2 separate regions of the Homo sapiens genome follow, and region 2 is reported to be linked to region 1. The links are microRNA targets in miRTarBase. Many come from high-throughput screens and were not tested one by one. Region 1 holds a microRNA gene; the other region holds the end of a gene's coding sequence.
What was found. Region 1 holds the annotated microRNA hsa-miR-3925-3p (ACUCCAGUUUUAGUUCUCUUG, at 2,523-2,543, opposite strand). A microRNA usually pairs through its seed, bases 2 to 8, with sites in the 3' UTR of a target mRNA and lowers its output. Matches are read on the target gene's strand: a 7mer-m8 pairs with bases 2 to 8, a 7mer-A1 pairs with bases 2 to 7 and ends in A, and an 8mer does both.

Region 2: the mRNA of ZNF594 is a reported target of hsa-miR-3925-3p. Seed matches in the 3' UTR shown: 8mer at 614-621, 8mer at 698-705, 7mer-A1 at 867-873 and 8mer at 1,193-1,200.

The regions. Positions count from the first base shown.
Region 1 is chr6:36,619,924-36,624,471 of GRCh38, forward strand. It overlaps MIR3925 (microRNA 3925), which reads right to left and starts at 2,589; the gene lies at 2,513-2,589.
Region 2 is chr17:5,178,355-5,182,354 of GRCh38, reverse strand. ZNF594 (zinc finger protein 594) reads left to right here. Exons shown (of 2, transcript NM_032530.2): 2 at 1-2,820. The coding sequence ends at 522. Among named protein-coding and RNA genes, the nearest start is that of ZNF594, 12 kb to the left of the region's middle.

The DNA.
Region 1 (4,548 bases):
ACCCTGGCAACATGGCAAAACTGCATTTTTACAAAAAATACAAAAATTAAGGCCAGGTGTGGTGGCTCACGTCTGTAATCCCAGCACTTTGGGAGGCCGAGGCAGGCAGATCACTTGAGGCCAGACATTCGAGACCAGCCTGGCCAACATGGCGAAACCCTGTCTCTGCTAAAAATACAAAAATTAGCCAGGCATGGCTGGGTGCGGTGGCTCATGCCTGTAATCCCAGCACTTTGGGAGGCTGAGGAGGACAGATCATGAGGTCAGGAGTTCAAGACCAGCCTGACCAATATGGTGAAACCCCGTCTCTACTAAAAATACAAAAATTAGCTGGGTGTGGTGGCACGCACCTGTCGTCCCAGCTACTTGGGAGGCTGAGGCAGGAGAATCGCTTGAACCCGGGAGGCAGAGGTTGCAGTGAGCCGAGATCACGCCAATGCGCTCCAGCCTGGGTGACAGAGCAAGACTCCATCTCAAAAAAAAAACCAAAAAAACAAAAAAGCTGCGTGGTGGTGCACGCTTGTAATCCCAGCCGCTTGGAAGGCTGAGGCACAAGAATCACTTGAGCCTGGAAGGTCAAGGCTGCAGTGAGCTGTGATGGCGCCACTGCACTCCAGCCTGAGTGAAGGGCAAGACCCTGTCTCAAACAAACAAACAAAAATCAAAGGATGAAGTCACGTAGATTTTGGGCAAATTGTTTTCCAAAATCTGTTAGCATAATTCTACAGAATGTCAAAAAGATAAAGACATCCACCAGTAAACCCTAATTGTTTGATGGTTGTAAGTAGTCACTTGAGATGTGACCGCAATAGGGGCCTGCCCATGGGGAAGGTGGCATACCCACCCATCTCCTGTGCCAACATGGCGTCCCTATCTCCTGGTAGCCCTGAGGCGAGGGTCAGGTGAAGGAAGTTGGGATCATCATTTACTCAGTTTGCCTATCTGTAGAAAGGGGGTATTTGGGCTGAAGGTGGCCTGTAACTCACAGGATGATCTGTCCCCTCTTCACACTGCACCCTGCAGTGAGGGGAGCAATGACTGAGTCAACCACTGCTTTAGGCAGCGGGGGTCCTTGATAAGGAGATAAGTTTGCCACACTGGGACTGATGGTCCTCAAGTTCTTTTCCAGCACCGATATTCTAAGATTCGGTGACTCCAGAAAAGCAATAAGGCCGTTGTGAGGAGGGCAGATCCAGAGGATGATCTTCCTGGAGGGGAGGGGAAAATGTTCAGTGCATACAGTGGGTAATGGTTCATCTGAGGTGGCATCAGACTGTACAACAAGCAGGGATTGTTCTGCAGGGTTCAGGCGACTGTTAGTATTTGATCAAGATTGGAATAGTCTCCTAAAACCTACTTGATCCTCACAGAAAAGTTCCTATCCCCATTGTGCAGATGTGGAAACTGAAGGTTAGAGATAGAAAGTTAGACCCTAGGGTGAGGCAATGGATGGCTAGGACTAGAACCCAAGGCAGGCTCCTAGGGCTCCTGCTTTTCCAGCACGCATCTACCATGCATATGTGCTACTACCAGGCCTGGCGCTAGGATTCACATCACTTTAGAGGCTGCTTGGTGAACATGGGCACCCACAAAAGCCCTGGAGAAGGCAGGTTCTTTCTCAGGAATGGCCAGTGGGTGTGAAGATCACAGTGTGGGAGAAAGATCAAGGAGGACTGAGGGCCACCCGACCAGGAATCATCTCCAGCAGCCTGTGGGTGACCGCTCGTCATCCAGATCAGCATCAGGAAGGTTCTGCACAACACCTCTAGGGAACACATGGGGATCGAGGTCCTGTGGCCGTCTTGGGGTCTGAAGATCTAGATTTAGCTTCTGGCAGTATCATGATGCAAACCTGGGCAAGTTGTTTTGTTCCCTGGACCTTGGTCTCTTCATCAGTGAAATGGAACTAATTATATTACCTCATAGGGCTATTATAAGGCCTAATAAAAAAAAAAAAGAAAGCATCCATAAACAATGTTTACTGAGCACTAGTAGTGCCAGGCACTCTTCACTTGTATTAACCCATTTGATCTTCACAAAAAATATTTTCTTTTTTGTTTGAGACGGAGTCTCCCTCTGTCGCCCAGGCTGGAGTGCAGTGGCGTGATTTTGGCTCACTGCAGCCTCCACCTCCCAGGTTCAAGTGATTCTCCTGCCTCCGCCTCCCGAGTAGCTGGGATTACAGGCGCCCGCCACCACACCCGGCTAATTTTTTGTATTTTTAGTAGAGACAGGGTCTCACCATGTTAGCTAGGATGGTCTCGATCTCCTGATTTCATGATCTGCCTGCCTCGGCCTCCCAAAGTGCTGGGATTACAGGCGTGAGCCACCGCACCTAGCCCACAACAAATTTTAGAGAGTAGGTACTATTGCTGTCCCCATTTTAGGAAACACAGAAGTTGGTTCCAGCCACAAGGAAGTGGCTTCATCCATCATCAAGAAGTTGATTCCAGCCCACGTGGATGGCTTTGAGGAGTTCAAGACTTTAGTGGAGGAAGTGATGAAAGATGTGGTGGAAATAGCAAGAGAACTAAAACTGGAGTCTGGAGATGTGACAGGCTCCACTTTCAGTTCTCTTGCTATTCCCACATGACCATGGTCCAGGATCCTGAGTTTATGTTCAGGAAATAAGACTCAGCGAAAACTTGCAGTCACTTTCATAATCATTAATGCAGAGATTCTCAATAAATTCTTAAGGCTCCACCACGCTCCAACATAAAGTAACACATTCAGTTTGTTACAGAAATGGTAATAAGGCAACACTATGCAATACTATGTGTACAATGCAGCACTTTGCAGTACCAAAATCCATGCCTACAAAGCACTGCACAAGAACACATACAAATAAAGGATATAGTAGAATGGCTGCCTGTGGGGTGGGGGCATGGAAATGACAATGGAGTGAGGGGGGAATACATGAAGCAAGAGGTGACTAGTCAGGACCAATGATGACAGCCAGCCATCACCTGGGGAATAGGAGGGACTCATCCCACTGCACCTGAGGACTAAAAATAAAATGGAATGGAAACAAGACCCTGGGTGAAATCACTCGGCCTGAAATACACTGGCCCTGGGCTCAAAGAGGAAAGGTGGGGACACATCCTGGGCTGCCTCATCAAACCAGGAGCCTGCAAGAGCATCCCTGTGTGTGTGTGGAGGGGGTGAGGACAAAGGGAGGGTCAACCACACCCAGTTCTGTGAGCTCAAACACCAGACTAAAGGCCACAGGCAGACCCTCCAAGGCCTCAGGGAAGGAGTGAAGAGAAAGGCCTGGGTGGTCAGTGTCAGAGGCGGCACAGTCACATGCTGTCATGCCTATTTCACCAAGGTTTAGCCAAATGCACTATTAGGGTGTCAAGAAAATATGGATATAGGGCAACAATCCTGTGATTGTATGATGACTGTAGGCTTGATCATCATAAGGGTCCTGCCATATGCTGGTCCAGTTGGCACACCCACCCATCTCCTGTGCCAGTGGAGTGTGCCTGTGAAACAGCAGTCAGCTCTTCTGGTGGCCCTGAGGATCGGGGTGAAGGAAGAGTGGATCTTCATTTAGTTAGTTTGCCCCTCTGCAGGAGGAGGGGAGTTGGATACAGACCTCTCCTAACAACCCGCCTGGCTACTGGAACCTTCCTGAGAAATGTGGTTAACCTCTGGGCGCAGAGCCAGCAGTTCTAGGCTCCCGTCACAAGGGGGCAGGATGGGGAAGAAAACAGGTTCTCAATTCCAGGCCTTGGACCTGTCAGGTTTGCTGGCAGGGGCAGGAAGGAGGGTGGGGTCGGGAGTGTGTGGTGGTTGATGAGGGATCCAACCATCGTTCCGCAAGAGCGGCTTGTTTATTAAACATGAAATGAGGGAAAAGCCTAGTAGCTCCATTGGATTGGGAAGAATGGCAAAGAGAGACAGGCGTCATTTTCTAGAAAGCAATCTTCACACCTGTTGGTCCTCACCCATTGAATGTCCTCACCCAATCTCCAACACAGAAATGAGTGACTGTGTGTGCACATGCGTGTGCATGTGTGAAAGTATGAGTGTGAATGTGTCTATATGGGAACATATATGTGATTGTATGTGTGTAACTATGTGTGACTGGCAGCGTGGGGAGTGCTGGTTGGAGTGTGGTGTGATGTGAGTATGCATGAGTGGCTGTGTGTATGACTGTGGCGGGAGGCGGAAGGGGAGAAGCAGCAGGCTCAGGTGTCGCCAGAGAGGCTGGGAGGAAACTATAAACCTGGGCAATTTCCTCCTCATCAGCGAGCCTTTCTTGGGCAATAGGGGCAGAGCTCAAAGTTCACAGAGATAGTGCCTGGGAGGCATGAGGCAAGGCGGAAGTACTGCGAGGAGGGGCAGAGGGTCTGACACTTGAGGGGTTCTAATGGGAAAGGAAAGACCCACACTGAATTCCACTTAGCCCCAGACCCTGGGCCCAGCGGTGCCGGCTTCCAACCATACCAACCATTTCCAAGTGTTGCCGGCAGAAGTTAACCTCTCTTAGCCTCAGTTTCCCCACCTGTAAAATGGCAGAAGTAACCAAGCTTACCTTCCCGG
Region 2 (4,000 bases), not on the chromosome of region 1:
GGTAGCTCAGATCTTATTAAACACCATCGTATTCATACTGGAGAGAAACCCTATGAATGTAGTGAATGTGGGAAAGCCTTCAGCCAGAGGTCACACCTTGCTACACACCAGAAAATCCATACTGGAGAGAAACCCTATCAGTGCAGTGAATGTGGGAATGCCTTCAGGCGGCGTTCCCTCCTTATTCAACATCGGAGACTTCATAGTGGTGAGAAACCCTATGAATGTAAGGAATGTGGGAAACTCTTCATGTGGCACACGGCTTTCCTCAAACATCAGAGACTGCATGCTGGAGAGAAACTTGAAGAATGTGAGAAAACCTTCAGCAAGGATGAGGAGCTTAGAAAAGAGCAGAGAACTCACCAGGAAAAGAAAGTTTATTGGTGTAATCAGTGTAGTAGGACCTTCCAGGGCAGCTCAGATCTCATCAGACATCAGGTAACTCATACAAGAGAGAAACCATATGAATGTAAAGAATGTGGGAAAACTCAATCAGAGCTCAGACCTTCTGAGACATCATAGAATTCACAGTGGAGAAAAACCTTACGTATGCAATAAATGTGGGGAATCTTTTAGGAGCAGCTCAGATCTTATTAAACACCATCGTGTTCATACTGGAGAGAAACCTCATGAATGTAGTGAATGTGGGAAAGTCTTTAGCCAGAGGTCCCACCTTGTCACACACCAGAAAATCCACACTGGAGAGAAGCCCTATCAGTGCACTGAATGTGAAAAAGCCTTCAGGCGGCGTTCACTCCTTATTCAACGTCGGAGAATTCATAGTGGTGAGAAACCCTATGAATGTAAGGAATGTGGGAAACTCTTCATGTGGCACACAGCTTTCCTCAAACATCAGAGACTGCATGCTGGAGAGAAACTTGAAGAACGTGAGAAAACCTTCAGCAAGGATGAGGAGCTTAGGGGAGAGCAGAAAATTCACCAAGAAGAGAAAGCTTATTGGTGTAATCAGTGTGGTAGGGCTTTCCAGGGCAGCTCAGACCTCATCGGACATCAGGTAACTCATACAGGAGAGAAACCATATGAATGTAAAGAATGTGGGAAAACTTTCAATCAGAGCTCAGACCTTCTGAGACATCATAGAATTCACAGTGGAGAAAAACCTTATGTATGCAACAAATGTGGGAAATCTTTTAGGGGCAGCTCAGATCTTATTAGACACCATCGTGTTCATACTGGAGAGAAACCCTATGAATGCCCTGAATGTTGGAAGGCCTTCAGTCAGAACTCACACCTTGTCAGTCATCAAAGAATTCATACCAGAGAGAAACCCTTTGAATGTAGCAACTGTGGTAAGGCCTTCAGTGGGTGGACAGCTTTTCTTAAGCACCAGAAACTTCACATTGGAAAGGAATTTGAAGACTGTAAGAGTCTACAAACAGGACCTATTCTAATAGGTAGCAGAAACCTAATGAATGCAGTAAAACTAGGAAAAGTCTGATGGAGACCACATCTTATTGCACTACAAATGAGTTTTATTAGAAAAAAACCATGGGAAGGTGGGAAAGCAGAGAAAATACCTACTGGATTTTTCAAACGTAAGTATAATCAAGTGGAAAAGCCAAAAGCTCTTGGACATAATCACCTTTTTTTTTTCTGTCTCAGAACTGACACTAGAATATGGTCCCAACGATACAATTTTTTAAATTATTTATTTTTTAACATACAAAGAGATGAGGTCTCACTATGTTGCCCAGGCTGGACTTGAACTCTTGGGCTCAAGCACTCCTCCCTCCTCAGCCTCCCAAAGGGTTGGGATTACCGGCATGAGCCACTGCACCAGCCCCAGGGGTCTAATTACTTGAGAATGTTTTAAGGGATGTCTATCATTATTAAAATCATTATAAATCACTTTGGCAACAACCCCAAAACTAAATTATTCATGGAAAGAGCCATTTCAATCTTGACTTCCTAGTCGAGTGACAAGTTTAAATGTGGGAAAAAACCCTGTGAAAGTAATGAGTGTAGGCCAGGTGCGGTGGCTCGTACCTGTAATCCAGCACTTTGGGAAGCCAAGGTGGGCAGATCACGAGGTCACGAGTTGATCATGAGGAGTTACTATGCCCAGCCAACATACTAAAACCCCGTCTCTACTAAAAATAACAAAAATTAGCCAGGCATGGTGGGGCACGCCTGTAGTCCCAGGTACTTGCGAGGCTAGGGCAGGAGAATCACTTGAACCTGGGAGGTGGAGGTTGCGGTGAGCCAAGATCATGCCACTGCACTCCAGCCTGGGCAACAAGTGCGAAACTCCATCTCAAAAAAAAAAAAAAGTCTAACTCTTCTGCTTGTCTTTACAATGCTGTACAGTGAGAGCTAATGTTTATAAGGATAAACAGGATACTTACAGGGATTTGAAGGTAATTTAATTCAGTGGTTTCCAACTTTTTAATCACCAAGGCCTTCTTTTTACTCCCCTATGTCCTGTGTCTTAAAAGATTATGTTTACCAAACTGCATTTATTAAAGAATTATATTTTGCTACATAAAGGCATGTACAACACAAATCATGCTTCTGACTGGCACCATGTAGGCAGACCTAGGTACTAAAATTCCAGCCCAAAGCAAATAATTTACCATTTTCATTAGTCTTTTTATTCCTTTTGTGGGCAAACATATCGTCTATGTTAGGCTTTTTGAAATATTAACTATGACTTGTAAACTCCAGATTAAAAACTAACCAATTCATCTTTGATGGAGCTTGAATCAAACTAAGGGTATTGGACTTTTGAAAGATTGAAATTTTTGTTACAGTATGGAATGTTTTTAACTGAATGTTGAAATAAAAGTTATTTAAGAATTACTTAGTGACTGTTTAGTATGTGCCAGGGGCCGTAATTAGATGGGGCTGAAGAAAGATAGTCATTGTTGAATCTTCTTCAGGTAGACCAGGTCCTCCTTGAGGTTCTCAGGCTGCATCTCCAGGTTGGCTCCGGCCAGGGTCAGCTTGTCCAGCCCCTGGTGCAGCTCCAGAGACCCAGCCTCGCTTGGTGCAGAAGTCATTGGCAGCCAGGTGGGCATCATCCACCTGTAGCCAGCACTTCTCCATTCTGCCAACGTCTCCGGCCTGGTGAGTCTGGATGTGAGCGCATCCCAGGGGGCCCAAGGCACAGAGAGAGAGAGGAACGGGGTGGAGGGAGGGAAGTGTGTGCAGGGGCCAGGAGCGCCAGGCTGCTCGGGCTTCCCGGCCCCTGCAGCCCGCCAGGAGCTGTGGCCAAGGCAGAGGCCTGCCCTGCTGCTGCTGGCGCTGTCACCTCCCTGTGGTCCTGCCTTCTGGGTCCTTGAGGGCCTCCTGTCATCTGGAACTGGAAATAAGTTAGTGAAGCGACGTTTTGTGAATATTTATTGGCCTTTGCGTCTTTGTCTTCATTTTCAGTGCTGGCTTTTCTGTTGGGTCATTTGTGTTCTTATGTTGATTTGAAGAATTTAAAAAGGTATTCTATAAATTAATCCTTTATGGGGTCATTTCTAGTGCAGATAGTTGTTTCTTAGTCTGGTCATTGTACCGTAATTTTATTTCACATTTCTTTCTTGCTGGTAAATAAGAATCTAATTGATTTTATATATTGATTTTGTATCTTGTTACCTGGTTTAATTCACATATTCATAGGCATCATTTTTGGATTGTGGTGGGTTTTTCATGTACTTATGTACATGTAGTTATGTACTTATGTACTTAAATACTTAACGTACTTACATACTTATGTAGTTAGTGTCAGCCACATATAATAACACCTATATTGCTTAAATGTTGGTTCTTACACCTTTATTTTTCTTTATTTTCTTCTTTTATTGTCCCCATCACACCTCCTGAACACGGTGTGTCTGGTTCTGATTCCAGGGAACAGGTTTCAGTGATCCTGTATTCCTTATGTAGTTTATTATAATTTCATTTTAGACAAACAATGAGATTAAGGAAGCTGCCTTCTTTTACATATGCTAAGAGTTATTTATGACTAATTGTTGAATTTGAATAAATGCTT